Linked DNA regions of Homo sapiens. The protein of the gene in region 3 purifies or fractionates together with the protein of the main gene of each other region. This does not show direct contact. Each region holds a gene or a part of one and is shown on either strand. Other genes may lie near its edges.

What was found.
Region 1: the proteins of CGB2 (region 3) and CAMK1 purify together in Homo sapiens (affinity purification with mass spectrometry; 2 studies listed by BioGRID and IntAct, with this or other methods). This does not show direct contact.
Region 2: the proteins of CGB2 (region 3) and CYFIP2 purify together in Homo sapiens (affinity purification with mass spectrometry; 2 studies listed by BioGRID and IntAct, with this or other methods). This does not show direct contact.
Region 4: the proteins of CGB2 (region 3) and WASF1 purify together in Homo sapiens (affinity purification with mass spectrometry; 2 studies listed by BioGRID and IntAct, with this or other methods). This does not show direct contact.

Annotation. Positions count from the first base shown.
Region 1 is NC_000003.12:9,758,242-9,766,352, reverse strand, and holds part of CAMK1 (calcium/calmodulin-dependent protein kinase type 1), read left to right. Parts: exon of another isoform or gene 1-217; coding exon of another isoform or gene 218-462; coding exon 463-594; intron 595-3,139; coding exon 3,140-3,214; intron 3,215-3,300; coding exon 3,301-3,439; intron 3,440-4,595; coding exon 4,596-4,722; intron 4,723-4,816; coding exon 4,817-4,892; intron 4,893-5,584; coding exon 5,585-5,697; intron 5,698-6,602; coding exon 6,603-6,681; intron 6,682-6,777; coding exon 6,778-6,865; intron 6,866-7,066; coding exon of another isoform or gene 7,067-7,166; intron 7,167-8,111. Other genes in the region: OGG1 (N-glycosylase/DNA lyase), read right to left, coding at 218-544. UniProt on the Homo sapiens protein: Calcium/calmodulin-dependent protein kinase that operates in the calcium-triggered CaMKK-CaMK1 signaling cascade and, upon calcium influx, regulates transcription activators activity, cell cycle, hormone production, cell differentiation, actin filament organization and neurite outgrowth.
Region 2 is NC_000005.10:157,317,035-157,325,145, reverse strand, and holds part of CYFIP2 (cytoplasmic FMR1-interacting protein 2), read right to left. Parts: intron 5,385-8,111; coding exon 5,218-5,384; intron 4,492-5,217; coding exon 4,344-4,491; intron 2,205-4,343; coding exon of another isoform or gene 2,130-2,204; intron 1,226-2,129; coding exon 1,072-1,225; intron 1-1,071. UniProt on the Homo sapiens protein: Involved in T-cell adhesion and p53/TP53-dependent induction of apoptosis. Does not bind RNA. As component of the WAVE1 complex, required for BDNF-NTRK2 endocytic trafficking and signaling from early endosomes.
Region 3 is NC_000019.10:49,028,172-49,035,977, reverse strand, and holds CGB2 (choriogonadotropin subunit beta variant 2 isoform 1 precursor), read right to left. Parts: upstream 4,089-7,806; 5' UTR 3,883-4,088; coding exon 3,874-3,882; exon of another isoform or gene 3,708-3,873; intron 3,475-3,707; coding exon 3,307-3,474; intron 3,072-3,306; coding exon 2,757-3,071; 3' UTR 2,740-2,756; downstream 1-2,739. Other genes in the region: CGB1 (choriogonadotropin subunit beta variant 1 isoform 1 precursor), read left to right, coding at 78-368.
Region 4 is NC_000006.12:110,101,460-110,109,570, forward strand, and holds part of WASF1 (actin-binding protein WASF1), read right to left. Parts: intron 7,223-8,111; coding exon 7,069-7,222; intron 5,736-7,068; coding exon 5,618-5,735; intron 4,121-5,617; coding exon 3,948-4,120; intron 2,099-3,947; coding exon 1,919-2,098; intron 758-1,918; coding exon 129-757; intron 1-128.

The DNA.
Region 1 (8,111 bases), on a different chromosome or scaffold from region 3:
CAACTGTACACATAATCCAAAAGCCCAGGGGTAGACCTCAGGCATGGCTGGATCCAGAGGGCCACATAATGTTATCAGGAAATATATTTGGCCATTTCTCAGGTTGGACTTCCTTTGTGTTAATTTCATTCCCAAGCAGGCTCTCCCCAGGTGGTGGCAAAGATGATCGCCATTAGCTCCAGGCTTACATCCTACCAGCTCAACAGGAGACTCATTCTCAAAGTGCTAGTAAGCTGGCTTGCATCACATGACCAATTACTGTGGCCAGGGGAGAGACTACTTTGACTGGCCAGGCCTGGGTCATGTGACCATCTCTGGAGCCAGGGGATGGATGAGTGACTAGGGGAGGGTCATCCACGTCCTTGGTCCAGCAGTGGTCACAGAACCCATAGGGAATGGAGGAGAGGCTGGAGGGAAGCTGGGGTTCCAGTTCTTCACCTTGTGAATCCCCTCTCCCGATAGGGGGGCCTTCTCGGAGGTGATCCTGGCAGAAGATAAGAGGACGCAGAAGCTGGTGGCCATCAAATGCATTGCCAAGGAGGCCCTGGAGGGCAAGGAAGGCAGCATGGAGAATGAGATTGCTGTCCTGCACAAGTGCGTGGGCCACAGCCTTTCCCTGCCCCAAGCTGACCCTGCCTTGGCCCTCCCATCCTCCTCCTTTCCTGCTTTGGACAAATCATTTAAACTCTCTAAGCCTTAAATTGCCCCTTTATAAAATGGGGATCACAATTTCCACTTGGCAGGGTTGTGGGGAACATCAGAAGTCCTTTATTTCAAGTGCCTGGCCTAACATGACAGATGTGATGGAGGTGCCAGTGCTTAGTCACAGGGGTTTAACTGTTCAATCAGGTGTAAAGATCCATCCTGAACATGGCTTGGACCCACATATCTCAGTTGGTGTTGTCTCTGGACCTACCTCAAGTTCCCCTCACATATTAAAACCACTCAGCAAGTTTAAAAATGACTGTCTGCTGACCCCCAGACTAAATCCACAACCAACTGGTCTATGAATTGCTCATGCTGATATGAAACCTCCTGTCCTCACTGGAAAACTTACAGAGAATCACTTCCAATCTCTCCCCTGAGCTTCCAACCACCCTGGGCAGATAATTTTTTTTTTTTTTTTGAGATGGAGTCTCACTCTGTTGCCCCGGCTGGAGTGCAGTGACGCAATCTTGGCTCACTGCAACCTCTGCCTCTTGGGTTCAAGCAATTCTCTTGCTTCAGCCTCCCTAGTAGCTGGGATTACAGGCACCTGCCACCACGCCCGGCTAATTTTTGTATTTTTAGTAGAGATGGGGTTTCGCCATGTTGGCCAGGCTGGTCTCGAACTCCTGACCTCAGGTGATCCACCCGCCTCGGCCTCCCAAAGTGCTAGGCATGAGCCACCACACCCAACTCCTGGCAGAGCATTTCTAATAAGACCCAGAGAGGACAGGGATTTGTATACAGTCACATGGCAAGTTTGTGGCAGAGCTGAGCCTTCCTCATCATCAAGATCAATTATCGCCTGACCAACACGGAGAAACCCTGTCTCTACTAAAAATACAAAATTAGCCAGGCGTGGTGGCACATGCCTGTAATCCCAGCTACTTGGGAGGCTGAGGCAGGAGAATTGCTTAAACCCGAGAGGTGGAGGTTGCGGTGAGCCGAGATCACACCGTGCATTACACTCCAGCCTAGGCAACAAGAGCAAAACTCCATCTCAAAAAAAAAAAAAAAAACAAAAAAAAAACAAAAACGCCAGGCGCAGTGGCTCACGCCTGTAATCCCAGCACTTTGAGAGGCTGAAGTGGGCAGATCACCTGAGGTGGGGAGTTCCAAACCAGCCTGACCAACATGGAGAAACTCCGTCTCTACTAAAAATACAAAATTAGCTGGACATGGTGGCGCATGCCTGTAATCCCAGCTACTTGAGAGGCTGAGAAAGAAGAATCACTTGAACCCAGGAGGCAGAAATTGTGATGAGCCAAGATCATGCCATTGCACTCCAGCCTGGGCAACACTCCAGCCTGAGCAACAAGAGTAAAACTCCGTCTCAAAAAAAGAAAAAAAAAATCAATTACCATTATTGTTTCACTTATGAGTATTTACCGTGTGCCAGGCACTGTGCCAAGCACCTTACCTGCATTATCTCACATGATCCTCACTCCAACTCTTTGAGGGAAGTACTACCATTGGCTTCATTTTATAGATGAAGAAACTGAGGTTCAGAGAGGTTACATTAAATCTAGCACCTACCCTGTACCAGGTGCTGGAGGAACAGTGGCAAGCAAGACAAAGCCTCTGGATTCGGGGAGCTTATGTCTGGTGGGGGAGGCTGACAAACATGTAAACACAGAAAACTATATATATATATTTTTTTTGAGATGGAGTTTTGCTCTTGTTGCCCAGGCTGGAGTGTAATGGCATGATCTCGACTCACTGCAACCTCCGTTTCCCAGGTTTAAGCAATTCTCCTGCCTCAGCCTCACAGATAGCTGGGATTACAGGCATGTGCCACCATGCCTGGCTAATTTTTGTATTTTTAGTAGAGATGGGTTTTCGCCATGTTGGCCAGGCTGGTCTCGAACTCCTGACCTCAAGTGATCCGCCTGCCTTGGCCTCCCAAAGTGCTGGGATTACAGGTGTGAGTCTCTGTGCCTAGCCAGAAAACTCTTAAGAGGTATGTATCAGGCTGGGTGCAGTGGCTCACTGGTGAAAAGATCTGCACCCAAATAGCATGTGACGGGCAGGATTTGGACCCAGGTCTGTGTATGCCAGAGCCCAGTGTTTATCCCTCTGCTCTCTCACCTTCCAAAAAATGGTAATAAACCATGGTAAGCTAGCTTTTCCCTTTGGGGACGAGATCCTTGGTTTGTCCTACCCAGGTATGTAGGCAGTGGTCGGGGGTTGGGGGTGGCTGAGCTGTCCTGAGCTCTAAACCGCTGTTTTTTTTTTTTTTTTTTTGAGACAGGGTCTTACTCTGTTGCCCAGGCTGGAGTGCAGTGGCTAGTCACAGGTGCAATCATAACAGACTGCAGCTTTGAACTGCTGGGGCCAAGTGATCCTCCTGCCTCAGCCTCCCAAGTTCCCAAGTAGCTTGGACTACAGGTGCACACCGCCATGCCTGGCTAAACCACCTCATTTCTCCTTTCAGGATCAAGCACCCCAACATTGTAGCCCTGGATGACATCTATGAGAGTGGGGGCCACCTCTACCTCATCATGCAGCTGTGAGTGGCCCAACCTCTGCCCTGCCCCCACACCTCTCCCAGCTGTCCCAACCCTCTTTGCCAGACTGCCCTATCCCCTGCTGCAGGGTGTCGGGTGGGGAGCTCTTTGACCGTATTGTGGAAAAAGGCTTCTACACGGAGCGGGACGCCAGCCGCCTCATCTTCCAGGTGCTGGATGCTGTGAAATACCTGCATGACCTGGGCATTGTACACCGGGATCTCAAGGTGGGGCTCAAGGGGGTGTGGTGAGCTAGGGTACCCAGGGGTGGGGCCTTTGCAAACCCCAAACTGTCTGACCTTGGGCAACTTTCACCCCCTCACTGAGCCTTGGATTTCCATCTACAAAGTGGATCTTGTAACCTTTAAACTGCCTCCTCCCATTCTAGTCCAGATACTCAAAGGAACACGAGTGAATTGTGTGGCATTTTATCCAAACAACATTTTGTCTTTTTCTGATTAAAAAAAAAAAAATCTGGCCAGACAGGATGGCTCACGCCTGTAATCCCAGCACTTTAGGAGGCAGAGACGGGTGGATCACCTGAGGTCAGTTCGAGACCAGCTTGGCAAAACCCTGTCTCTACCAAAAATACAAAAATTAGCCCGGCGTGGTGGCAGATGCCTGTAATCCCAGCTACTAGGGAGGCTGAGGCAGGCGAATCACTTGGACCCGGGAGGCAGAGGTTGCAGCAAGCTGAGATTGTGCCATTGCACGCCAGCCTGGGCGACAGAGCGAGCCTGGACGACAGAGCGAGACTCCATGTCAAAAAAAATAAAATAAAAACAAAAAATCCTATTCCCCTTCTGTAGAAAACTTGGATGGGACAGCAAAACATAAAGAAAAAAGCCAGAAATCCCCGAAATCCTACTCCTCGGAAATAGCGACGGGGCTCACATTTAGCAGTACATCTCAATCCGTTCTAGGAGAAGGGCACTTGGGGTGTGACATGCCTGGTTTTGAATTCTGGCTCTGCTACTGCCTAACTGTGGGTTCTTGGGTGAGTCACTTTGCCTCCAAAGGCATCAGTTTCCTCATCTGTTAGGTGAGATTATACAGACTGGCCTAGCAGGGAAGCAGTGAGGATGGCATTAAATCAAGCACTAATCCAGGGTCTGGCATAAAATAGGCATTCAAACATTCCTTTAGGGCTTTACAGTGCACACCTGAGGTTTAGAGACAGTTCCCCCCCACACCCTCTTGAGCCTTGTCCTTCCTGGAATTTTTGGCCTTCTTGAGAGCTTCCTTGATTTTCTTATGACAGCCATGAAGCCACAGTGGCTTTTGGGGATCCATTATTTCTCAGAAGGTGCTTGGAGCGGCAGAAGGTTCTACCAGCCTCTAACCATCTCTGATTGCCCCTTCTCTTCCCTCCTGCCCTTCAAGCCAGAGAATCTGCTGTACTACAGCCTGGATGAAGACTCCAAAATCATGATCTCCGACTTTGGCCTCTCCAAGATGGAGGACCCGGGCAGTGTGCTCTCCACCGCCTGTGGAACTCCGGGATACGTGGGTGCGGAGGGCCCTGGGCTGGGGCTGTGATGGTGGGGGGAACCAGGAGTTGAAGGGCAGAGATTTGTCACCACCACGTCCTCTTCCCTCCACAGCCCCTGAAGTCCTGGCCCAGAAGCCCTACAGCAAGGCTGTGGATTGCTGGTCCATAGGTGTCATCGCCTACATCTTGTAAGTGGGGCTTGGCCATGGTAGGCTGTGGCTCCAGAGTTGTCCTCTCGCCTACTTTCCTCTCTTCCTTCCTCTGCTCTCCCTCTGCCCTCCCTTCCTTCCCTCCCTCCCTTCCTTCCACCAATCAATTACCAGTATTACTTCATTCAATAGATACTATGTTTCAAGCACTGTGCCAAGCAAGCACTGGGGTAAATTTAGCACAGCACAAACCAGACAAAGTGCCTGCCCTCAGGGAGCTGACTTTCTTTCTAGTAGGGAAGACAGACAATCAACAAGTAAATAAATCTACAAACTGACGTCAGGTGATAAAAATAAATACTGTGGAGAAAAACCAAGCAGGAATAGGGAGACGGGGTGATGCCATTTCAGTAGGGAGGTCAGGGAAGGGCTCGCTGTGGAGGTGATGACCGAGTGGTGAGGGAGCCAGACATTGGAGGTGTGGGGAAAGAGTGGCATAGGCAGAAGCAATGGCAAGTGCAAAGGCCCTGAGGAGGGCAAGATGGCGGCACATACAAGGAACAGAAAGGATAATGTAGCTAGAACAGGAGTGAGCAGGCAGGGCTGGTAGAGTTTATAAAGGGGGAACTCCTTCCATGGCTCCTGCCTGACCCCTGAGACTGCCCCAGTGCTCCACCCCGGAGCCAACGGCACCCGAAAGTGGAAATGAGGATGAGTTTCTCCCTGCCCAGGCTCTGCGGTTACCCTCCCTTCTATGACGAGAATGATGCCAAACTCTTTGAACAGATTTTGAAGGCCGAGTACGAGTTTGACTCTCCTTACTGGGACGACATCTCTGACTCTGGTATTTGGGGCTTTGCTTTTTTCCCCTGGGCCCTGCCTCTGGTTCCTCCCTCACCTGCTTTGGGGGCGGTCTCCCTCCTGCCTTCCTTCTGTCGGATTTTCCAGCACCACACAAAGAGCTGTCTTCGAGACCAGACACCCTACCCCTTCTTCCTTCTGCTTGGGTACTTCCTTCTGCTTGGCTCCCAGAGTGAGAAACTAGGCATTCATTTGTTCAATCTTCAAACATAGTCTATTTGAAAATACCTCTCCCCTATTGACACCCTAATGTCTAAAACACCACCATAAACATTTTCATCCTCCTTTTGTGCCCCCTATTAAGAAGCAAACCTGTGAAGCTACTATCGTTTATCATCAGTGTGAATGCACTGAGATTAGTCAAGAACAACTTTTTTTTTTTTTTCTTTCTTTTTTGAGACGCAGTCTCGCTCTGTTGCCCAGGCTGGAGTGCAGTGGCACAATCTCGGCTCACTGCAACCTCTGTCTCCCGGGTTCGAGCAATTCTCTGCCTCAGCCTCCCAAGTAGCTGGGATTACAGGCGCCCACCACCATGCCCGGCTAATTTTTTTTGTATTTTTAGTAGAAACAAGGTTTCACCATCTTGGCCAGGCTGGTCTTGAACTCCTGACCTCGTGATCCACCTGCATTGGCCTCCCAAAGTGCTGGGATTACAGACATGAGCCACTGTGCCCGGCCATATGTTTTTCTTAAGAGAGAAAGGAAAGAGCTGGAAGGCACGGGGTGGGAGGGCCTGAAGAAGAGCATAGGTTGGGTGGGGTGGGGCATGGACTGATTTGGCCTCTTTGTCTTGATGCCAGGCCAGACCTGAGGGAGTGGGTATGCTCTTGGGGAGTACACAGGCAGTACCATGCTGTCATTATCTTTGCTTTTGTCTTGGGGGTTTAGCCAAAGATTTCATCCGGCACTTGATGGAGAAGGACCCAGAGAAAAGATTCACCTGTGAGCAGGCCTTGCAGCACCCATGGTGAGAATTCACACAACCTGTGAGCTGGGGCGGGATTTGGGGCCCTCAGGTCTGCTTCTGCCCTCATAGGCAACCCACCACATAACCCCATCCTAGGATTGCAGGAGATACAGCTCTAGATAAGAATATCCACCAGTCGGTGAGTGAGCAGATCAAGAAGAACTTTGCCAAGAGCAAGTGGAAGGTGAGTCCATATCCCTAGTTCTGGTCCCAGCCTCCCCAGGACTCCTCCCCATCCCTACCCAGGCTCAGCTTGCACAGCACCTGGCATCACACTGGGCACACAGTAACTGCTTAGGGATCCTTACTGAAGGACTTCATTCATTCACTCTTTCATTCAACAAACACTCCCAACACCTTCTCTATTCCAGAGAGGGTCCCTCACCTCCAAGTCTAGAGGAAGAAGTCTGTAATTCTTCAGGAGGCATCTGATCCAGCCTATGGGGTCCGAGAAAGGTCATAAAAGTGGTGATGACCTGACAGAGCTGTCAGTTAAGTAGGAATTAGTGAGGCATAGCGGAATAATGTCTATAGCCATTCCGGGAAGTGCAAGTGCTAAGCCTGGCCAGACTGGAGGGGCTGAGGGGACTGAGAGGCAGGAGCCCAATTTAGAGAAGCAGGTAAGGGGCCAGGCCTCTTAGGGCCTCATATGCCACAGAGGAGCACCAACTTGATCCTGAGGGCACTGAGGAGCCCCAGAAGAATCTTAGGCAAGTATTTGCTGCATAGAAAGGGCTCTCAGGGCCAGGCATGGTGGCTCACGCCTGTAATCCCAGCACTTTGGGAGGCCGAGGTGGTTGGATCACCTGAGGTCAGGAGTTCAAGACCATCCTGGCCAACATGGCAAAACCCTGTCTCTACTAAAAATAAAAGAATTAGCCACACATGGTGGTGCGTGCCTGTAATCCCAGCTACTTGGGAAGCTGAGGCAGGAGAATTACTTGAACCTCGGAGATGGGGGTTGCAGTGAGCTGAGATCGCGCCACTGCACTCCAGCCTGGGCAACAAAGTGAGACTCCACCTCAAAAAAAAAAGAAAGAGCTCTCAGGATGCAGAGAATGGCATGGAGTAAAGACTGGGTGACGCATTAGGAGGCTGTGGCAGAGATACAGGCAGGAGATGGTAAGGGTTTGGAACCACAGTAGCAGCAACAGGGGGCAGAGAACAGTGGTTGATCCAGGAGTCATTTAGGAGGTGAAACTGACAAGACATGACGATGCAATGGATGTTGGGGGAAAGAGATGTCAAGGGCTGGCCCAAGACTGTGGCTGGGAACAGAATGGATGGTGGTGGTACCATGACTGAGATGGTTATCACAGGGACAGAAACATGTTTTGGGGGGATGGTTTTAGTTTTAGACATGGTGAATTTGAGGGGTGTGTGGGACACCTAGGTGGAGATATTGAATAGAGACACACCTGAGCAAGTTA
Region 2 (8,111 bases), on a different chromosome or scaffold from region 3:
GCTCGTGGCCGGGCGCAGAGGCTCATGCCTATAATACCAGCACTTTGGGAGGCTGAGGCAGGCAGATCACTTGAGGTCAGGAGTTTGAGCCCAGCCTGGCCAACATGGCGAAACCCCGTCTCTACTAAAAATACCAAAAAATAATAATAATAATAAATTAAAAAAATAAATAATTAGCCGGGCACAGTGGTGCATGTCTGTAATCCCAGCTACTCGGGAGGCTGAAGCAGAAGGATTCTTTGAACCTGGGTGGCAGAGGTTGCGGTGAGCTGAGATCACACGACTGCACTCCAGCCTGAACCTGGGAAGCGGAGGTTGCGGTGAGCTGAGATAGTGCCACTGCACTCCAACCTGGGCAACAGAGCAAGACTCCGTCTCAAAAAAAAAAAAAAAAGTGTGTTCATTATACAAACACAGTGTCAAGACAGGCCCCCGAGTGCCCACTTTCAACTGGATTGTGGCTCCTTGACTCCTCGCGTGTGATAATTGCCAGATCCCATACAGTTTAGAGACCTTGAAGGCCCTTCCCGGGCTACTCTCTAATGGAGAAGTTTGTACTGTTTGTTACAATCACTCTTGTCAATGCCAGCAGACATATGAAGACTCATGTTCCTGAGATACTACTCTTCCTCTGCTCTGGACATACATCTTACTAAAAGGAGAGGAAGTGTGAAGAACACAGGACTGGGATGCAGCTCGAGAGCCTCCCCTGCTGGCAGCAGCAAGTACTAATTAGCGCTTGGTTGCGGCTGAGTAGCAAAAGTCTAGCATCCGTGTGTCTGTATGTACGTATTCTTGTTTTTGATCCCGCTCTACTAAGGACTTTATGACAAATTAGCCACAAGTATCTCCTGGACAAATTTAGCTAAGTCAGAACAGCTGAGTTGAACCTGGCCTTTCCTAGCTCCAAAAGCCCACTGGAAAGTGTATGTGTTTTTTCCTTGGTGGTGATATGTGCCCCTTAGGGTCAACGGTCACGTCCCTTTGCAATGCCTGGCTTGGTGGTCTTAGCGGCTCTGAGAGCCCTCATCCCCTCCTCCCATGCCTTAGCAGGGATGGGATGCAGCTCACCACTGATGTTGAGCAGATGTGTGAAGAAGAAGGACTGTTTGTGAAAGTCCTCTATGGCGAGGACAATGGGTCCATCCAGGCTGCTCCTCAGGGTCTTCTTGGAGCCGCTTTTGTCTGCAATGAGTGATTCAAGCATGGTCCGCACCATGTACAGCTTGAAAAAGAAAGCAAGATGAGAAGGTCAGAAGCTGGCCCTCTACCCCGGGGAAAAAGGTTGCTTCATGTTGTATTTATGTATTTTTTTTTTTCTGCAGATGTCTGCTCTTAAAAAGCACTGTCCTAAGGAAGCACCAGTTTAAGGTTTGAGAAATAAATGTGGAACTGTGAAAACCTTCATGGCCAACCCGGGCCCCGTGGCATCCCTGGGCCAGTGGACCTGGCCACACCAGGTAGCTCCCTGCTCTGCTTGGCCAAGGGCGTGTATATCAGAGGAGAACCTCATTACGTGTCACCCTGGAGTCACTCCCTGCTTTCCCAGAGGGCCACAGATGCCATGGGTGGAGCACTGGACTGGGAGTCAAAAGACCGGGGTTCAAGGCCAGGCACTGCTGCTGATTTGCTGTGTGACCTTAGGCAACAAAGCCCCCACTCTGGGCCTCAGTTGTCTCATGTAACATGAGGGGGTTGGACCAGATGCCTTCTCACACCAGTCCCTTTCAGCACTAACATTCTGAGGAACTGAGAAATGGGATAAGATCAGAACGAACCCCCTCCCACACCTGTTCCTGACCCTCAGCGTTTTGACCCCATGGCTGAGCGATGGCGCCCCCTTGGTGGCATCAGCTGCACTGCACAGCCTGCTGAAGTTCAGGGTGGAAGGCGGGTTAACATTGGTACTTACACAGGAGGCTACTAGACAATTAACTCCCGCTTACAGGGTGCCTTAAGTGCAAAGGATGCAAGTGCGGTGGGGTGGTTCTCTTTGCTAATCTAGATCTCTCCACATCATTTGTCTGTGAATCTTAGGGCTGGAAGGGGCCTTGAGGAGCCAGGCTAGTCCATTCCTGCTGCCTCCTCGAGAAGGGTACCCAAACCAACCCAGCCAGGCGGTGTGATACCAGGGATCGGCAGCCTCTTCGGCCCTGTGTGCCACCAGTGGGGTGAAACAAAGCCCTCGGGGACCACTGGCAGGCCTAAGACATAGATAGGAGAGAAGGAAGAGGGAATGGGAGGGCAGGAGAGACAGGGAAGAGGGAGAGAGAGAAAGAGAGAGAGAGAGAGAAAAGCAAGAGGTATTGTATACGGTGGGAAAGCCGCCGCGACTGCCGGGGGCCACCTCTGAGACACTCCAACCTCCCAGCAACCGCGTTCGTCTTCGCTGCCTCTGGAGCTTCCCTGGGATCTCCCCCATCACATGCCTGGCACTGATGCGGGTAGAGCAGCCACAGAAACGTGTGACCCACCATCCCTGCCACAGGGCTTCCTTTGTGGGAAAGCAGCCACAGTGGCCGTCAGTGCCTCAGACAGTCCCCCATCTGCAGCCCTGTTGGAGGGCCTGTCTCACCATCCCTAGGAGCCGAGAAGCACTCTTCTCATGACGGCCTCTCAAGTCCTCAAAGGAAGAATCCAAGTCTAATCTGTTGTGGGTGCTGTCCAGTTGATATCCAACTCTAATTCTCTGAAAACTGGTTTCACCCATAAGAAGGTGAACTTTTTTCCCACGTACTTTTACTTAACAGAGCATTTAATTCACCAAAACAGTCTCTATCCCAACTATGCAAGATGCCCATGTCTACTGTGTCCTGAAGACCGTACCAGAGCCCTGGGTGGGTGTCAGGAGACCTGGGTTCTTGTCCCACCTCCACCTGGGACTCACCTTGTGACTTGGACAAGTCACTTCCCCTCTCTAGACCTCAGTTTCCCCATCCGCAAGAGAGGGGGAGGGCCTAGGTTTCTCTAATAGCGCTCCCAGCTCTGGTTGTCTACGAGTCTATTCAACATGTCTGTGCCACCTAGCATGACCTGGTAGAGGTTGGGGGTGAGGCGGGATTTACTGCTGGTGACCCACCCCTCTCACATTATCTACACAAATACTCCTTCCTCTCCTCTCCTTTTCTCTCTGCCTGTTAAGTCCCCTCCTCCTCCTTTCCAGTGTCTTTTGTGCCTTGTCTGTCTCTTGCTCACTCATGTCTTAAAATTTACAGAAACACTTGAAAGCCCTGCTCAGTGTCTCCCGGACCTCAACCCTTGATATTACACAGAACTGTTTGCAGACGCTTCCTTGGGGCGTTCTACAACCAGCCGGTGAGATTGGTGCAAACTAGCAGAGGGCTGTGAAGCCAAGGGGAGTTAAGATGACCCTGCCGAGAACCCACCTCTCCCCTGCCCCAGCCCCCAGCACAGACACAGACGCACACACAGGGAGAAGGGTCGGGGGTGGGCCTCAGATGGTCCATCTTGGGTGACTGAGAACAGAGAGAGGCTTAAAGGTCATGGGAAGTGAGGCCTGTGAGACCCTTAAACTTGCAATGAGAACCATCTGCTTTTTCCAGTACATCAAAAATATTACCAGAAACTACCTATCCTTAAGTAGGTAGCAGGGATTTAACGAAGATGCCCAGATTATTGACTTTTTTTTCTGTAACGTTATGACTGCTCTGGATAAGCCACGGGCGACCTCTTGTGCAGAAGCTCTGGCTGGCAACTCTGAGTGTTTCCAAATACTAGACTTCCTCTAAGGGGACAAGGGCTTTCAATACTTGCACTTTTGGAAGGATGTGGAACTAAGGAATATTTTGTTAGTAACACAATCTCATCCAAAGTTTTCATTTTACAGAGAAGATAATCAGAGCTCAGAAAGCTCAAGGTGCTTGCCCAAGATCACACAGCAAGTCAGAGGCAGAACTTTTAGGGGAAAGGGCCAGGACTTATTAAAGAGGGGCAGCATAGATGCATGCAGATAGATTCCACTTTAACCTCCTCCTCCACTTTGGAATCTATACTTCATAGGACTAGAAGATAGCCAGGCAAGGTGGATGTGGTGGTATTATCCCCATTAGCCAGTTTAAACAACTGAGGCACAGAGAGATCTGTAAAGTGCCCGAGGTCACACAGGTATCTAGGACTAGAATCCAGGTCTCCTGAATCTTAAGCCAGTGGTCCTCCTTCCTATATCAAAACAAGATGGCAGAATAAGACCGGAGCAGCCACTCAACCCTGCCCCTCCTGACCGACGGCTCCCAGTCCCACTGCCCATGGCCAGCCATGATGATCTACCATAGCCCGGCTGGCCTCTGAGTCAACGCAGCTGGCCTGTGCCTGGAGCCGCTTACCTGTGTGCTGGATGGCCCCACAGCACGCCGGGGCACCTTGATATCAAATCCACCTTTGGGGTCCTTCTCCCCTCTCAAGCATGGGTCATTAGGGGGCTCTCGCCCTCCCTCCCAGTCACAGATGGTCTTTCGAATTGCCTGTAGGACGCTGGGGAAGGAAGAACTAAGACTTAGACCAGGTTTCACCATGGGAAAACGTCACTACAAGCTTGTGTTTCTAGGGCCCGTGGTGTCCCAGGAACACCCACATTTGAATTCTTGGGGTGCTTGTAAAGCATGCTCATTTCTGCCCCAATTCCAAAACTCTGGTTTAACAGATTTAAGGTACAGTCCAGGAATCTGTGTTTAAACAAGTGTCCTACATGGTTCTGATGTCCAAGGGATGTCTGAGAACTCAGCTCTGAGCCCATCGAGTGAGACAGAACTTGTGTGAGGCAAGAGGTCTGTATTTCCTTTCTGGTTATAGGGGAGTCTCACCGGTCTTATGAAATCTGTGTGTGCTTAGTTTTCATAATAGCTTAGATGTGCTGCATACTTACTCCATGCTGCATGTGCTTAGGTCTATATATGGACCATCTCATTTCATCATCCCAACAGGCAGCAGGTAGCATTATAATCCCCATTTTACAAATGAGGAAAACTGAGGTTTGGAGAAGGTCAGCAACCTGACCAAGTTCACACAGCTAGATAGCAGTGGATATGGACTTCTAGAGATGAAGGCTTAATTCATCCCAAATGCCCAATCTCCTAAAGAGCCCTCTGGAGCTTGCTGGAAGGACCCATGTGTGTTCAGTGGCTGAGCCAGGACATCCTCTCTGATGGGTACCTGGCATGCTTATGTCTGATATGCTCCTGAAGGCATCTGAAAACCCACCTGATGAGGACATTCTTCTTCTTCCGTACCGCCTGCCGCAGGGGCTCACGCAGCGTCACCTGGGCGAAGTCCTGCAATGCCGCGTAGATGGTGTTCCTGATGGCCTGGTTGAAGACGCTCTCCATCCTGCCCATGAGCACCTGCAGGCCTTTGATCATGGCGATCACCTGGGCAGGAAGAGGCCAAGGGTCATGTTCACCATGTCCAGCACACCAGCTGTCTACTACCCATCACCGCCCTGCCAGGGGAGGCGGGGAGTGAGATGTCCAGAGGCATGAGGCCAGTGCTACTCAAAGTGCCAGCGCATGGCTAGGTAAGAGATGTGTGCCAGAATGTACGTATATCAGCACTTGGCTTCATTCATTGAGAAAGTCTTGCTACAAAACACAAATGTCAGCTCAACTAACAGCATTCTTCGCAATGCAACTGATTTTCATCCTCGCATGAGCTCCCAATTTTGTTGTTCACTGCTGACAAATAGCAGCTGGCCCATGGGCCACAATTTGAGCATTTTGAGAAGTGCCTTGGCTTTTGAAGGCCTCTCCATAGACCAGGCACTCACAGACAACATCAAATAGAACTTTTTTAACATAAAATTTTCTAAAGAATTTTTACAACCTTTGTTTTTGAAACCGTTTGGCCAGTTGCTGCTTGAGTTTATAAAATCAAAACTTCTCCTGCAGAAGTCATGGGGGAGAATGCCTCTACTCCCCTATTTCCCTTCTCCTTACCCTAACTCACTTATCTGTTTGGAGAGATGGGGATTCAGGCACGTGTGATGAGAGGAGCCTGGCCTGACCTTGGCTCGCTCTTTTGGGACCTGCCTGCCTGCAAGTATGTGGCCTCCCTTCTAGGTTTCTGGCTGCTTCTTGCAGTAACCATCCCCTGCCCATCCCGAGGAAGGGAGGCGTGTATCTATGCAGCTGCTTTGCCTATTACCTAGTGGCAAGTTTAATGAGATGTAGGAGGCATAGGAACACTGGTGTGGCCTTGGGTGAAAACCACATTCTCTAGTCTAGCTTTACCAGCAGTAAGTCTGAGCCTTTGACTCCATTGGCCTCTAATATTAATTTCTCAATTGATTCAGAATTCAGAGGGAAAGGCATGTGGCAGATCGTCCACCTCACAACTGCCACACAGATCACACCCATAATGGCATGTTCCACCTTCTACACCAGACTGGAAATACACAGGACAGGGCCCAGCTATGCTGTGCACGCCCAACTGCCAGTGTCTGGGTCCATGGTGGGCAGACACATTTTCTGTTGAAAAGGAACAAATAAATGAATGAATGAGCTCAGACCCTAAGGCTGTTTTTTTCTCTAAAACTTAAAGGAAGAAAAAGAACATTTTTAGATAGAACTGGTATGAAAACAACTCAGGAGGTGATGGTTTTCATTGGCACCAACAGTACAACAATTTTGTTGGTGATGAGCTTTAGTGCAGAGAAATAATGGGAGAGAAGCATTAGAGGACTGTTAGATCATAACAGAATCTGGGCCCCTGGCTACAGATATAACTAGGAGACATTAGGAAAAAGGAAGGAGTAAATAATGAAGATGTCTCAGAATGGCTCCAAATACAGAGGAGTGGGCAGGCCTGTTGGATCTAAAGGAAAAATCTTTACAACTCTAGACAAGGCAAAGATTTCTTAGCTGAAACCCCCAAATCACTAACCACCAAATAACTGACAAATTGGACTTCATCAAAATTAAAAACAGCTGCTCTTCAAAAGGCACCCTTAAAAAATGAAAAGGCAAAGTCACTGATGAGAAAAAATATTTGCGACATATATTTGACTGAAGACTTGTGATCTAAAATATGGAATGAATTCTCACAATTCCATAATAGGAAGACAGAAACCCGATTTTTTAAAAATGGGCAAAAGATCTCAATACTTCACAGAGGAAGATATATGAATGGGATACAGGACAGGACAGAGGTAAAGGGAATTCCCAAGATAATAAATAATGAGGAGAATCTTGGATCAGTGGCGGGGCTGGTCTAGAGACAAACCCATGCAGATTGGAAAGAAGAGAGCTTGTGGAGGAATGCCTCCAAGAAAAAAAGAATAATACCAAAACTCATCAAATGATGACTGTGATGGACTATTTTGTAAGGAGTTTTACATTTTGTTGGTAGGTTTGGGGTTGCCTTTTTGATAGACTCATAGAAAACAAAATAAAAAATACAGTATTGCTAATTCTATGAAGAACAAAAAGTTGTGCAAGAAAATAAATGGATTCACATTAGAGCGTGTGGCTCAGTGATGGACAACAGTTACTTGGTTATAATAATAATAAGGTAACCATTGATTTTTACCAAAAAGTGTAAAATTACCACGATGGGAAGATGGGGGAAGGAAACCAGGTGTGTTGCAGGGATGGGAGGTAGGAAGGAGAGAGCTATATCCTCATTTCCCAAAGTAGAAAATCAATAGAAAATGTCATAAACTGAAAAACCAAGAAATAGTCTCATAAGCCTGTTAGAACTAGGGAGATAAATACCACAAGGAATCGCTTAACAAGTTGAATGGTGTTTCCTATTTGGGGATTCAGAATGGAATAACATGGTACAGGCAGGTTACTACTTTTGCTTTGTTTTATTATTAAAGGCCACATTGAACTACTTTTCTTTTTAATTTTTTTAAACATGTTTTATTAATGAGATAAAAATGATAAAACCTCCCAATGTATAGCAAAGTAATGACTAGATGGAAATAGAGTGACATGTTCTTGGTGGTTGTGCTTGGATGACGATATAAGGTTGTGGGAAGGTGAAGGTAGAAGTGGGTTGCGGGAGCATCTTCTGAATCACTTACAGTGCATACGCATCCCTTTTATTAAGGAAATAAGTGCATAAATAGTTTTATAAAGTTGCATTTACCCTCTGAC
Region 3 (7,806 bases):
TGTGGGGGCAGCTGGGGAGCTCAGCTGAGGCGCTGGCCCCAGGCACATGCTCATTCCCCCACTCACACGGCTTCCAGACCCGCGTGCTGCAGGGGGTCCTGCCGGCCCTGCCTCAGGTGGTGTGCAACTACCGCGATGTGCGCTTCGAGTCCATCCGGCTCCCTGGCTGCCCGCGCGGCGTGAACCCCGTGGTCTCCTACGCCGTGGCTCTCAGCTGTCAATGTGCACTCTGCCGCCGCAGCACCACTGACTGCGGGGGTCCCAAGGACCACCCCTTGACCTGTGATGACCCCCGCTTCCAGGACTCCTCTTCCTCAAAGGCCCCTCCCCCCAGCCTTCCAAGTCCATCCCGTCTCCCGGGGCCCTAGGACACCCCGATCCTCCCACAATAAAGGCTTCTCAATCCGCACTCTGGAGGTGTCTTTCTGTGGGCTCAGGGCAATCACACACACAGGGTGGGTCCAGCTTCCAAACTATTTTATACAGAGTCACAGTACAGAACTCTGGTAGAAAACAGGGTGGACGGCTGGGCGTGGTGGCTCACGCCTGTAATTGTCGGAGGCTGCGGTGGGTGGATCAGCTGAGGTGAGGGGTTCCAGACCAACATGACCAACATGGAGAAACCCCATCTCTACTAAAATTACAAAATATCGTCGGGCGTGGTGGTGCATGCCTATACTCCCAGGTACTTGGGAGGCTTAGGCAGGAGAATCTCTTGATCCTAGGAGGCGGAGGTTGCAGTGAGCCAAGATCCCGCCATTGCACTTCAGCCTGGGCAACAAAAACAAAGCTCCATCTCAAAAATTAGTAATAATAATAATAATAATAATAATAATAATATAATTAAAAACGTTCGTCCAGGCGCAGTGGCTCATGCCTGCAATCCCAGCACTTTGGGAGGCCGAGGCAGGTGCATCACCTGAGTTCAGGACTTCGAGACCAGCCTGGCCAACATGGTGAAACCCTGTCTCTACTAAAAAAAAAAAAAAAAATTAGCTGGGTGTGGTGGTGCGCGCCTGTAGTTCCAGCTACTCAGGAAGCTGAGGCAGGAGAATCGCTTGAACCCGGGAAGCATAGGTGCAGTGAGCCGAGATCACGCCACTGCACTCCAGCCTGGGTGACAGGGCGAGACTCCGTCTCAAAAAAAAATAAAATAAATAAAATAAAAATAAAAATAGAAAATAGTCCACTACTATTACTCAATAGCAACAGATGGTAAAATACAGGCTCAGAGAAATTAATGATTTGTGCCTGGTCACACAGCCAACAAATGGCAGAGATGGGACTTCAACTCTGGGCAACTGCACTCTGCCATCCTTCCTGTAGAACTCTGAGGAACTGAGAGTCTTGCATCTTGGAGGATGTTCCAATCAATTTTTTTTTTTTTTTTGAGACGGAGTCTCGCTCTGTTGTTGAGACTGGACTGCAGTGGCGCGATCTCGGCTCACTGCAAGATCCGCCTCCCGGGTTCCTGCCATTCTCCTGCCTCGGCCTCCCAAGTAGCTGGGACTACAGGCGCCCACCAGGACGCCTGGCTAATTTGTTGTATTTTTTAGTAGAGACGGAGTTTCCCCATGTTAGCCAGGATAGTCTTGATCTCCTGACTTTGTGATCCGCCCGTCTCGGCTTCCCAAAGTGCTGGGATTACAGGCATGAACCACTGCGCCAGGCCCAATTTTGTTTGTTTGTTTTGTTGTTTTGGGAAAGGGTGGCATGGAGAAGACTGGGAAACAACCAGTGGTCACCAGAGCTGTAGCACCTCCTTCACCTCTGAGCTCTGGGGCTGGGAACCCCAGGCTTCGGAGGCCACTGTGGAGGACGCAGGTGGCCCCCTCTTTCCTGACATCTCAGGACAGGGAGGGGCAACCGGCTAGGGGAAGAAAAGAACAGGAAGGTTATACAGCCAGGTGGGGAAGGGGCCAAATCCCTGAACAACCCCTTCCCAGAGTTCCTCTTCAAGCGCAGGGTACCCAAGAGTCAAGGCCCCGCCCCCTTTCCAGAGGCCCCTTTTCTACTTAGGTGACGGCTCCTGGCTGGGATGGGAGGTAGATGGACCGGGGGTGGGAGGGGGGGGAGGAGGGGAAGGGAGAGGCAGTGGATGAAGGAGAATGGAAGAGATGACATCCCCCTTGGCCCATTCATCCCATTCAGGTCCCCAAGCCCCCACCTGGACTGCCAGTGCCAACCTCAGAGGGTGGAAGAGGGAGCTCGGCTTAGAATGCTGAGGCCCTGCCCCCTGGGCCACACCAATCGTGTGGCCTTCCTTCTCCCCACGGAAGGCCAGACCATGGACACCTCCTGAGCTGGATGTCATCCCCCATCTCCACCCTCTTTTCTTTTTCTTTCTTTCTTTCTTTTTTTTTTTTTTTTGAGATGGAGTCTCGCTCTGTCGTGCAGGCTGGAGTGCAGTGGCGCGATCTCTGCTCACTGCAACCTCCCGCTCCCAGGTTCACTGCATTCTCCTGCAAGCGCCCGCCACCAAGCCCGGATAACTTTTCGTATTTTTAGTAGAGACGGGGTTTCACCGTGTTAGCCAGGATGGTCTCGATCTCCTGACCTCATGATCCGCCTGCCTCGGCCTCCCAAAGTGGTGGGATTACAGGCGTGAGCCACCACGCCCAGCCGTCCACCCTGTTTTCTACCAGAGTTCTGTACTGTGACTCTGTATAAAATGGTTTGGAAGCTGGACCCACCCTGTGTGTGTGGTTGCCCTGAGCCCACAGAAAGACACCGCCAGAGTGCGGATTGAGAAGCCTTTATTGTGGGAGGATCGGGGTGTCTGAGGGCCCCGGGAGTCGGGATGGGCTTGGAAGGCTGGGGGGAGGGGCCTTTGAGGAAGAGGAGGCCTGGAAGCGGGGGTCATCACAGGTCAAGGGGTGGTCCTTGGGACCCCCGCAGTCAGTGGTGCTGCGGCGGCAGAGTGCACATTGACAGCTGAGAGCCACGGCGTAGGAGACCACGGGGTTCACGCCGCGCGGGCAGCCAGGGAGCCGGATGGACTCGAAGCGCACATCGCGGTAGTTGCACACCACCTGAGGCAGGGCCGGCAGGACCCCCTGCAGCACGCGGGTCTGGAAGCCGTGTGAGTGGGAGAATGAGCATGTGCCTGGGGCCAGCGCCTCAGCTGAGCTCCCCAGCTGCCCCCACAGGTCTCAGACTCAGGGGTCCAGGAAGCCCTCTGTTCCTGCCCTCCCACACCCCATTCCGCAGCCCCTGACCAGAGAGGCAGACCACCCTTCCTCCCCCGCTGCCTCTGTGGGTCTGGCCCTGAGGTGGCAGCACCTGCCCCGGCCCCGGGCAGCTCACCATGGTGGGGCAGTAGCCGGCACAGATGGTGGTGTTGACGGTGATGCACACGGGGCAGCCCTCCTTCTCCACAGCCAGGGTGGCATTGATGGGGCGGCACCGTGGCCGAAGCGGCTCCTTGGATGCCCATGTCCCGCCCATGCTCAGCAGCAGCAACAGCAGCAGCCCCTGGGACAAGGACACTGCTTCACCCGGGTCTGAGACCGCAGCCCCGAGTCCTGGCCTTCCCATCCCGCGTGGTACACCACCCACAAAGACCCAGAGACCCTTCGTGGCATCTCCTATTCAGGACCCACCACCCGGACACCTGCCTTTCAGAGCCCACCCCACAGCCCAGAGGATCTCAGATACCCCAACATTTTAGATCCCCACCCTCAGGAACTGCCCCACCTGAAGCTTACTGGGGGTCACGCTCCTCCAGAAAGAGGCCTCCTTCCACAGCTCACACTGGTCTGCCCCTTCTCATGCCAGTGATGGCCTGGAAGCAGGTGGAAGGTGCCCAGGGGCCCTGCAGTCTTTCCTGGAACATCTCCATCTTTGGTGCCTGGAAATGTCGATCTACCCTACCTTTGACATGTCTCTCTCTTAGCGGGATATCTTCCGCAAGCACTGGGGATGTGGACATGGAAAGTAAATTGAGTCTCCGTGGGGGAGTGAGACAGGGAGTGAGGGGTGTTGGACGCGGCACGGGAACCCGGCCGGAGTCAGCGGACCCAATTGGCTGCTCTCTCTCAGATACAGTTCCCCTTCCTCCCTCCAGGGGGCGCCACGGAACGCAGGGCCCTCACTGGCCCTGGGGACTGGGTGACGTCAGGGGTGAGCCTCTCCTGATTGGCTCCATCACCCTGCGTAAGGTCAAAAGGAAGAAAGGAGATCCCCGACACCCCGAGCTATTGTGGCTCCGACCGGTTGCGCGTGCCCTCGGGCCCTCAGGGAGGGGAGGGTTCGAGGGTACGAGTTCGAGGCCAACCGGGTCCACATTGGTTGAGAAAAAAATTTTTTTATCGTTCCCTATATAATAACAAAACATAAAGGGAGGACGCCTTGATAGGAAGAAATGACATCTTCCTAAGTGTTTTTAAATTACTTCAATGTATCTTTTTTTTTTTTGGGAGACCGAGGCTTGCTCGGTCCTCGGGGGACCTCCCTGCCTGTCAGCCATGGCGGTCGTCACCTGTGGTAAACAGAATGGCGGGAGCAAGTGGGATGTCCCACTACTCGGGCTGAGGCAGGAGAATCACAGGAACCTAGGAGGTGGAACCTCCTCGCCCAGGAGGGGCGCGGCTTCGGACTTAGTTTCTGCCCAATGAGAGAGGGCCTCCCCGTGACTGTGCTGCCAGGTTAGCCACTTGACCCTGGTGCCGCCAACGAGGGATTCAGCCCGAGCCCCACCTCTCCCTTAGGGACCTCTGCCCACTCTACCCTCAAGCCAGGATGCCCGGAGCGGTCCCCGGAAATGCGTGTGCTTCAGGTGATTTAACTGATTATTGAATAGGCCCGCAGGAGGTGTGTCCTGCCCCCGAGGCCTCAGCCTCAGAGGACATTATCTGGACTTAGTCCCTTCCCCGCGATGCCATCAAGCTGGACAATTTTAAGGTCTGTTTCTTTCCCAGTGTAGGGTATAGGTTGGCACAGGGAAGAGGGCTAGAAACCTGACTTGAGCTCCCCGCCCAGGGCTGAACTCTCCAGCATCCTGATCACTTCTCATTGAACCTTGCTTATACTCCCCGTGTGATCGGTAGCTCTTTATCTCAAAACAAAATATTCTAAGCCGACCCCTGCCCACTCTCACCAAGTAAGATTTCTCATTTGAACCCCAGCTCCCAGATACTTAAAGGCCTTCTGTAGACCATGTCCTCAAGGTCCCCTGGCCATCTGCTTGCATGTTCCAGTTTCCCTCCTCCCCCATGCACATCGTGAAATGTGCCCTCCCACTCCCCAGGATGAGCAAGGTGGTGTCCTCTGTGACTGAGCAGTCAGCAACTTAACACCAAAGGTCACCAATGATCAAATCCATGAGAGTTGATCCGAGGAGTTATGTATTAGGGCTACGAAAGAGTAAACACTCAGTAAATAGTGGCTATTATTATTATCATCATCATCATGATTACCCTCAAGTTCCCCTGGGAGAGCTCCTATTCAACCTTCAAAACCCCACGTTGTTGCACCCATCCTACAGAGATTGAGCTCAAATTCAGAGAGTTGTGATTTTGCGATGATTTGATGAGTTCCCCAACTGGGGTCCGTCCGTAGAGCAGCTGGGCCAACCCTGAGGTCTCTCAGCATCCAGCTCTGTTCTTTTTCTGCCTGACCAGTTCCTGGGTATAAGTCTCAGGCCCGGCCAGTCCGGCTGAGGAGTGTGCAGACACAGGCTGTGCCAGTTTGAATCCATCGCCAGTCCACACGGCCCTGGGCATCAGCGGTCAATGCCCGCACATAGGACTGCTTGGCCTTGCACTCAGACACCCAGTGCCCCCCGGTCCACACCCCAGCGGCAGCCCCTCCACCTACCCCTGGGCCACCTTCTTCAGAGTTATCGGCCTTGAAGCAGGTGACAAAGAAGTGTTGGTGGAGGGAACTGCTGCCAGCTGCAGGCACCTCACCCAACACCTCCACCTCGAGCACAACCAAGTCCACAGCGGTCCGGGGGTCTGTCACCCAGACACTGACTGCATCGCACACGGCCAGCTCACCCTGATGACTCGCCGGTGAAGTATCGCTCACCCCTCGCTGGCTGCGGTTGGCCCGGGTGCCTGCTGACTCCCAAAAGGCCCCAGTCTCCAGCAGGAAGACCAGAGGGGGCCCGGCAGCGGCACCCCTAGACAGGACCACTTGGGGGAAAATAAGGTCCCACTCTGGAGGAGGAAAAGGGGACAATGTCAAGGGTGGGGGTTAGGACTCCATTGACACACTGGGGAGGAAGCAAATGAGGGGGATGCAGAGGGAGCCTGGGGGAGCGGGAGCATCTCTCAGAGGACATGGAAACAGGGAAAAGGAGGCTGGGATTAGAGAAGAGGATAAACACTTCAGTGAGGTCAGAAGTTGGGAACCCCAGGGGAGGCCTGCCTGCCAGGATTATGGGGAAGCCCTTGCTCTAGAAGTTTGGGGGACTCCATGTATGGGACTTGCATCACACCCAACTTGTAGATTAATAATAAATATTCAACAACTACAGGTCAGGCACTATGGCTCACACCTGTGGTCCCAGCACTTTGGGAGGCTGAGGCGGGTGTTTGACTTGAGGTCAGGAGTTCAAAAGCAGCCTGGCCAACACTGTGAAACAACATCTCTACTGTTAATACCAAAATTAGCTGGGCGTGGTGCTGCGCTCCTGTAATCCCACCACTTTGGGAGGCCCAGGCGGGCGGATCATGTGGTCAGGGGATCGAGACCTTCCTGGCTAACACGGTGAAACCCCGTCTCTACTAAAAATACAAAAACTTATCTGGGCTTGGTCGCGGGCCCCTGTAGTCCAAGCTACTTGGAAGGCTGAGGCAGGAGAATGGAGTGAACCTAGGAGGGGGAGCTTGCAGTGAGCAGAGATCGCGCCACTGCACTCCAGCCTCCACGACAGAGCGAGACTCCATCTCAAAAAAAAAAAAAAAAAGAAAGAAAGAAAGAAAAAGAAAACAGGGTGGAGATGCAGGATGACCTCCAGCTCAGGAGGTGTCCATGGTCTGGCCTTCTGTGGGGAGAAGGAAGGCCACGTGATCGGTGTGGCCCAGGTGGCAGGGCCTCAGCCTTCTAAGCCGAGCTCCCTCTTCCTCCCTCTGATGTTGGCACTGGCAGTGCAGGTGGGGCGGAGAGGGGCGCGGCTTGGGGACCTGAATGGGATGAATGGGCCGAGGGGGATGTCATCTCTTCCATCCTCCTTCATCCACTGCCTCTCCCTTCCCCTCCTCCCCCCTCCCCTCCGTCCATCTGCCTCCCATCCCAGCTAGGACCCATCACCTGGGTAGAAAAGGGGCCTCTGGAAAGGGGGCGGGGCCTTGACTCTTGGGTACCCTGCACTTGAAGAGGAACTCTGGGAAGGGGTTGTTCAGGGATTTGGCCCCTTCCCCACCTGGCTGTATAACCTTCCTGTGCTTTTCTTCTGCTAGCCGGTTGCCCCTCCCTCTCCTGAGATGTCAGGAAAGAGGGGGCCACCTGCGTCCTCCACAGGGGCCCCGAAGCCTGGGGTTCCCAGCCCCAGAGCTCGGAGGTGGAGGAGGTGCTACAGCTCTGGTGACCACTGGTTGTTTCCCAGTCTTCTCCACGCCAACCTTTCCCAGAACCACAGGCTTCCAGAATGTTGTAGGGAAACTGCAAAATCCGCGCCTCCACCAGCCTCTCCCAGCGCCAGGTCAATTTCACACACAGGGAAACTGAAGCCTGCCTCAGAGGGGCAGCGTTTTACCTCCTTAGTGGCAGTTTTGAGGTGAATCGGGGTCTCCCTAGGATTCCAGGTTGTGCACTTTCTCTAAATTGTGGAATGTGGCCAGGCGTGGTGGCTTGAGTCTG
Region 4 (8,111 bases), on a different chromosome or scaffold from region 3:
TAAAGGCCATTTGTACACAAACATGATCACCTAAAATTTTATAGATAAGGAACACATTTTTGTCTTAAATATTTAGAAAGTTTCCAATGCTACTATAGCAATGCTTTTCATGGAGCTGAGAAAATTACCTTTTCGTATTGCTTCCAGTAGCACACTCCTGGCATCACTGATTACAGGTAGGGTTGATGGATGGCGCTTTGGCTCAGAAGCAGGTATAACTTGTGATGGAGGAGATGGAGGCATTAATGGAACATGGGGACCTGGGGCAGTAGATGGAGTTGGATGTAGCCCAGAGGGAGGATGAGCAAGAGCTGTAACTGTGACAGGTGATGATGGTCGAATGCCAGGTGGAGGCAGAGGAGGCGGTGGTGGGGGTGGAGGCAGCCCCTGAACTTCACCTTGTGGGAGTGGATGAACTGGTACAGTCTCACATACTGGGGCAGCTCTAGCTACTGGTGGAGAGGGCTGTACTAGAGGAGGTGCAATTGGAGGAGGAGCTGGGTGAAGAACTCCAGGGGCAATCTGAAGAGGAGCTGGAGGTGGTGGTACTGCTGGAGCTTGCAAAGCAGTGGCTGGAGGTGGAGGTGGGGGAGGTACTGGAGGGGGAGGAGTTGAAGTCATTGAAGCTCTTAATGAGGAAGTTGACAAGGCAGATGGAAGAGGTGGTGGAGGAGGTGGGGGAGTGGGGCTCACAAACACAGGTGTTCTGCCTGTAGCTGGTGACTGAGGGCGATTTTCTATCAAACCTGTAGCAGAACTGAAATGACAAAGAGATTCTAGCAAGTTATTAAAAGAGAAAAGCCTAAAGAGAAAATCTAACCACACAAACTATAAATGACTATCAGTAATTATATCAAAATGGATCCAATAACATGCTCCTATAGAAATTTAACATCTTCAACAGTATTTAGAAAAAAAAAAAGAACTAAAAGCACATCAATAAAAAAATTAATGAGTGGTGCTTTGGTTTGTAATAGTCTAAATAGTCTCATTCTCTCATGCAACTTTGGCATCCACTCAGATATTTTATGCTTACTTTAATAAATAAAATGCTCAATTCTATACTGACAGGAGTCTCTATAATGACTCAACATTGATCATAATGCAATTTTGTGGCAATACATGTGGCCAATACAATGCTATATTTATACTGAAACTATGAAGTCTCATCATATGCTATTTCAGTTAAATCAATGACAGCTAATTACAAACCACAAAAAGAAATTTACAGCTCTCTCTTTTCCTGAGGATGGAACACCAAATGAGTCAGTGATAGAAAATTGGATTTTTAACTGAAAATTGTAAAGCTGATCTCTATATCTCTATTAGAAAATTTCCCTAATATTTCTCTATTAGAAATTTATCATTTGGATAATAACTGACAAGATTAAACTTCAAAATAGCTTTACTGAAAGATTATTATAAGCAACTGCCAATCCTCTCTGAAATTCTTTAAGTATTTTCCTTAATACCAAATTAGTATTAATAATCACATCTTTGGTTCCCATTTCTTAGACTGTTACCCACATTCCAAAAAATCCTTAATTTTTCTTAATACACTGCACATGATATGCTTGATAACAACACTATAATAAAATGAAACAGGCTTTAATCTTTAAATTCTTATTAGCTAAATTTTCCTAGGAGAGTGTGTCAGCTCTAACCAGAAGATTACAAATAATGTCCCACAGACCAAATCTGACCTGCTCCCTGTTTTTATAAATAGAGTTTATTTCAACACAGACACATTCATTTGTTTATGTATATTCTATGGTGGCTTTCATGCAACAATGGCAGAATTGAGTACTTGTGACAAAAACTGTAAGGCCCGAAAGCCAAAAATACTTACTATATCGTCCTTGAAAGAAAAAGCTTACTGACTCCTAAGATAAAACATCATATGCTTGTTCCAACATACCTGATACAGGTGGGTATCGGTTTTGCATCTCCTGCTCCATGCATTGGTGGAGGTGGAGGTGGTTCATGTGGTCTGACTAATACCCTTTCCTCAGCTCTAGTCAGAAGCTCACTCATCTGACTAAATGGCAAGGCAGAAAGTGAGTAAGATCCATCCATATGATCCACGTATGTCTGAGGTCTAAAAGAAATATATAGTATCAGTGAATTATTCTTGAATTATTGGGAGGAAAGGGTTCTACATGAGATATTAAATATTTAAAGTTTATCCTTTCAATGCCAATATTTTAACTATTTTTAAGAAACTTTCAGAAATGTATTATATTAATCCTGCTTTTAAAACAAAGAATGCTGCTCACAATATAACCCTTACTTGTTGATTTAGAGATCTACTATGATGACCATCGGTTATTTTATTATTTTATAACAGAATACTAATTCAACTCACAGGATGAAAAGCATTACGTACGTAATTTAATAAACAAGAAAATAATTAACTTTTAGCAAATTGTGTGGAAAGCTATCTGCCTCTATTTAGTTCTTTACAAGAAGATGCCAATGACAGAAAGGTAGAATAGGAAAATGAGTTTTCTACTACTAGTATATCTCGGTGTGCTCTTAAACTTAAATGACTTCTAAAAGTCTTGCACCAGAGAGAAAGGCCTCCCAGATACTAGCAGCACAGAGGTGGCTAGCTATATTGTTTCTGTCCTTCTGCTGTTTTCAAAGGTGCAAGGGTACTCAGAAAATAGCTGAGTAACATAGCAACATGTGACTTAGATGTAAGCAAAATTTTAGATAACTCGAACATGTTAAGATTTATAAATATTTGCTAGTACATTCTTGGGAAAAAGTTGGATTTAACAGATGTGCACACAGCAAGTCAGAAATTATTGTATTTAGTGAGTCAGATAAGTACCTTAATTACTCAACTGTAGTAGAAATAAATGTCTAAAGTTTATTAATTTTTTAATGTCAATTCTTTCAGTAATACAGATAAATAGTATCTCTCAGATGTATATTTCTCCTAAAATAGGTCAAGATGTTGCACACTTATGGCCCAATCATTTATATGTATATTACTTAAAAGAAAACCTTAAGCTCTTTTCCATTAAAAAATCATATGACTAGGCTGGGCACAGTGGCTCACACATGCAATCCCAGCACTTTGGGAGGCTGAGACAGGCAGATCACTTGAGGTCATGAGTTCAAGATCAGCCCGGCCAACATGGTGAGACCCCATCTCTACTAAAAATACAAAAATTAGCTGGGCGTGGTGGCGTGTGCCTGTAATCCCAGCTACTTGGGAGGCTGAGGTGGGAGAATCGCTTGAACCCAGGAGGCAGAGGTTGCAGTGAGCTGAGAGCACACCACTGCACTCCACCCTGGGCGATAGAGCAAGATTCTGTCTCAAAACAAACAAACAAACGTATGACTATACCCAAATAAGTGTCTTCGTAGACAGATGCCAGTTTAATGTGTTTGCTGGTAGTATGTTATTTAGTTAGGGCCCCTGGCCACTAAGAAAGGAAAAAATCTTTTCTACAAAAGGGATCAATACTTTTGTTTGAAAGTCCTAATATATCTGAGGTGGGCAATGTGGCAAAGAAAGGAAGTCAGGGGAAAGTAAAAGGAACAAAACAGAACCCCTTCTTCACTCCTATTTTATATGCAATAAATCAACAGTATTTCAAAAAAACCCCAGACCCTAAACTTTTATTACAAAATTCTAGCAGACTGTGCCTGAAATATCGAGAGGCTATTGAGACGTCACACTAAAGCTAAAACCCTAAAGATCAGCCACTCCAACCACTTCTTTCTAAGATGACAAAACTAAGGTCCAGGTATGAAAATGACCTGCTCAAGGCCTGACTTTAGTAGGCTCACAGTGGTCAGGATTTTGAAATAATCTCTATATTTATAACAGGGTCTGCCTGTTCAACAGTTTAGGACTCAAGACTTAGAAGTACAGATACTACAAATAAAGCCAATGTTTTATCATTTAAAAAAAAAAACAAAAGTAAAGAAACCTTGTTTCAAAATGAGAGGCTGGGCCATTAGCAACTTCAATATGCTTATGTAAGAGATTAGCATCATCTTCAGCCAGCTCTGGACCTTGGGCCAGCTTCTGCCATTCTCGCCGCCTGTCATGAGGTGCTCTTGGCACTTTTTCTGGTTCATGAGGACGATCTAGATTTTTCTGCTATAACAGATGTATTGAAACAAAGTCAAATGCTTAAGCGCTAATTTTTAAAAAGGAGGTTATAACAATCAAATTAAACTCTAACATCAACACTGAAAAAGACAATGTCATCATAATATAGTAAAAGTAACACAGAAATGGTTTACTTGTACATTCAGTTAAATCTTAGCCAGTCTGCTGTAATCCCAGTTTCCTGCCATGTTTTGTTTAACCCCTAATTTGAACTGATGCACCAGACACAAAACAGTATGCCTAAAGAATACAATTTGAGGTCAGAAAGTCTTTCAGATGAAAAAAGACTCATGAACCCTTGCTCCACAGGCATTAGTTTGAAATTTCTACGATGAATGGCATTGTCTGCCCCTAATCAAAACGTAACAATTTACTAAGGTTATGTTATCTGGGAAGTAACTGATTAGCTAGCCAACACATTAGAAAAAAATCCAATTATCTAATTAACCGATAATAACTATATCACTCAACAGAAAACATTGTCTTTAAACAATAAAACAAAAAGTGATTCAAAACTGGGGGAGAAAGTACAGAAAGGGCTAGAGTAAGTGTAACAAATTCAAACGCCCAAAGCGGCCAAGCGGATAACATACATGAATGAAGCCAGTCGGGTGTAAGATGGGGCATGAGGTGAGCTAGACAGACATGTCCATCTCAGGCACTCTAGTTCCAAAATTTAAAAACCTCTGTGTTTGGCAAACAAAACACTCCCTACAGGCATAATCTGGCTTGCCAGTCACCAATTTGCAAATGTTAGCTAGAACACTGGGTTACCATCTAGCAAAGAAGACAATACAATGGCATTATACAGGGATTAGGGAAAGCAGAGATAGCTACAGGAGAACCAGAGAGATGATAAAGACAGAATTTGCCTCCTTCATAATTCAACCTAAATCTAACTTTGCTTCATCCTTCTGTGTTTTCAGTTATCATTAACATGAAATATAAAGCAGATACAAGTGAATTTTATTAGAAAGTGGAAAATGACAATAACAGAAATTTCATGTGAATATAATAACCTCTCCAAAACATTTAGGAGAGAAATGTTTAGGATGTGCTCTGTAGCAACAAAATACTAGCTTAATCTACGTTACCAATATCTGTACAAGATTCCATTGCTCCTTACCAAAATGTTCCTCTCTTCCTTGGTACACCTAACTCCTATCTGTTCTTCAAGATTCATTATAAGCTTTGTGGGAAGGGTTTACCCTGCCTGCTAGCTAAAGCAGATGCTATTTTGTGTTATCTAAACCCTTTATGCATACCTCTGCTATGGCACTTATTATGCCCTACTCTAATAATCTAATTGCTCATCTGCTCCCCATCAGACTGTGTTCTTTCTGTGGAGTTATAAAGACTTCAGTATTTAACTATATGGACCCAATAAAATAAAACTGTCAAAATACAAGATTAATGAAGTTCAATATATGCAACAAAACACAAATATACAAAAATTAACCTCAATTTTTTAATCTCTTGTAATACCTTCTGCTTCCTCTTTTCCTTCCTCTTATCCTCTGTATCTTGCAACATTTTTTCTTTCCATAGATCAAAGAAATACGAAGGATTGGTATAAAACTTCAGACCTTCTTTACCATCATCTCTGAAATATAAAATATCAATTAAAACACACATTAGTAAGACTTAGGCAATCAGAATAGAAATAATTTCACTAAAATGTTTATCCTCTTACATTAATAAAATACAGCATGTTAAAATAGTGCCAAAATAAAACTGAATATTGCACCAATAGAAAATTTCTCACAAATATGAGGAAACAAAGAAAAGTGGTAAAGCAGATGCTTTTCCAAGTTAGTACTAACAATTTAAAGTATAGCTGGGCAATTTTCATCCCTAATTTCTGCTGAATCCCAAATTTTCTAAAAAGTCCTTTGGGCAATTCCAATAATTACAAATAGCTCTGCCAAAGATAAAAGCCTGAAAAGACAGTAACATCATCTAGAAGACAGAAATTTTGCAGTTTCTGCCAATACTATGATTTATTTATTATCTTACTAAATCCAAAAGATATCATGTAATAGTCATTCTAACAGTCACATTTATATCTAATTATCTGCACACTGACTTACAATTTCAAATAACTCTCTGAATACTATTTTATTCAGGTTGTGTTGTACATTACCCATTTAACAAACCATGTGAAAGAACTTCAAAGAAAGGCTAAATAATTCCAGATTTTATTCTAAGTGGTAAAAAGCATTTTATAAAGGTACTACCTATTCATTATGTAAGAAGTTAATGTATACAAATCAAATCAAGAGTAGACGAAACAGGCCGGGCGCAGTGGCTCACGCCTGTAATCCCAGCACTTTGAGAGGCCAAGGCGGGTGGATCACGAGGTCAGATCGAGACCATCCTGGCTAATACAGTGAAACCCCATCTCTACTAAAAATATAAAAATTTAGCCGGGCTTGGTGGCAGGCGCCTGTAGTCCCAGCTACTCGGTAGGCTGAGGCAGGAAAATGACATGAACCTGGGAGGCAGAGCTTGCAGTAAGCCTAGGTGACAAAGTGAGACTCCGCCTCAAAAAAAAAAAAAAAAAAAAAAAAGAGTAGACAAAACAAGCAAAAATTATGTTTATTTTGTTAGTAGGACAGAATTTTGAGCTTTTTCCATTTGATTAAAAATTAAATTAAAAGGACAATAATAACTCCTTATCTCTTTACATTAATAAGTTTACCAGTGGCTTTTCTAAACTTGTAAAAACAACTCTTTTAAATAGGTCTTGTCTTTTGTATGCCACAATCTTAAGAATTCATCCAATGAATAAAAGCAAAGGTTTTCCAAAGGTGGTGGACAGAGAGGGCTCTCTGTGTTGGCTAGAACCCCAATGAAATAAAGAATGTTTGGGGATTTAGCATTTCAATCTGAAGTCTGAGATAAATAATAGGGCTACTATTTATTAACCTACCTACCTATAAGGAGTGAGTATATTGAGAGGTGGAGGCTGTTCACAAACATCGTACGTCTCCTGTAATGGAATAGGCAAAGTCTTGCGATCGAAAAGCTGCTGGTCTTGAATTGTAGAACTTCGGAAAGCTTTCCTCATTGTTATATCTTGCAAAGACACTAAAACAAAAATCAAGAATTCATTTTATTTTATTTTACTAAGATGATTTAACATAAGGGCAAATTCACATACTTTATTTGTCTAAAAGTCAGCATGGCTCAAGAGGTTGTGACCTTAGTGGCTTATGAATCAGAAACCATATTTTAAATGTTCTATCATTATATTTACCCATATCATTCTGCGCCTAATTTTCCCAATCAGATAGGTTTTAATTAACCTTTGATTTTGAAGGCTCAGAGGGCCCTAATGACACCTGAAACATATCTACATTTCAACCAAATATACCTTTTTCTTTCTTCTACCTGCCATCATGGGCCCCCACCAACTTAGGTTCTCTTCTCCTATAATCTTCTTTTCCATCTCCCTTTATTCCTTTTTTTAGCTTACACCAGTAACTCTGAAAGGAATTACTTATTAGTGGCACTGTGGGCTAAACACGCTGTTAACCTCTATGCTACATATACTATAAATATTGTATGTGTACTCTCAAGTTAAAACAAACTTTACTGTAAAGGAAATACTTTTAAGTATTAGGTGATCTATATTATTCTCTTTTTCACTTATCTTTTATCTGTACTATAAGGATTTCTACCTAACTATAAGCTCTTGAAGACTCAGACTATCTTGTACATTAGTATTCCCAGTCACTAGCACAGCCCCATCACATACATGATTTAAAAACAACTTCATTTATTTTGAACTGTGCAGCATGTTAAAATAAAAAACATACAAAAATGCTGCATTCTTAATTCTTACACTGATATCCCGATATTAAAAAATAAGGTAATTTCTTGATATTTAATATGGCCTTAAGTATACAGACAAATGCCCTATAACATAGCAAGGTCAGTATAACAATCCTAACAATTCTTTTTTTTTTTTTTTTTG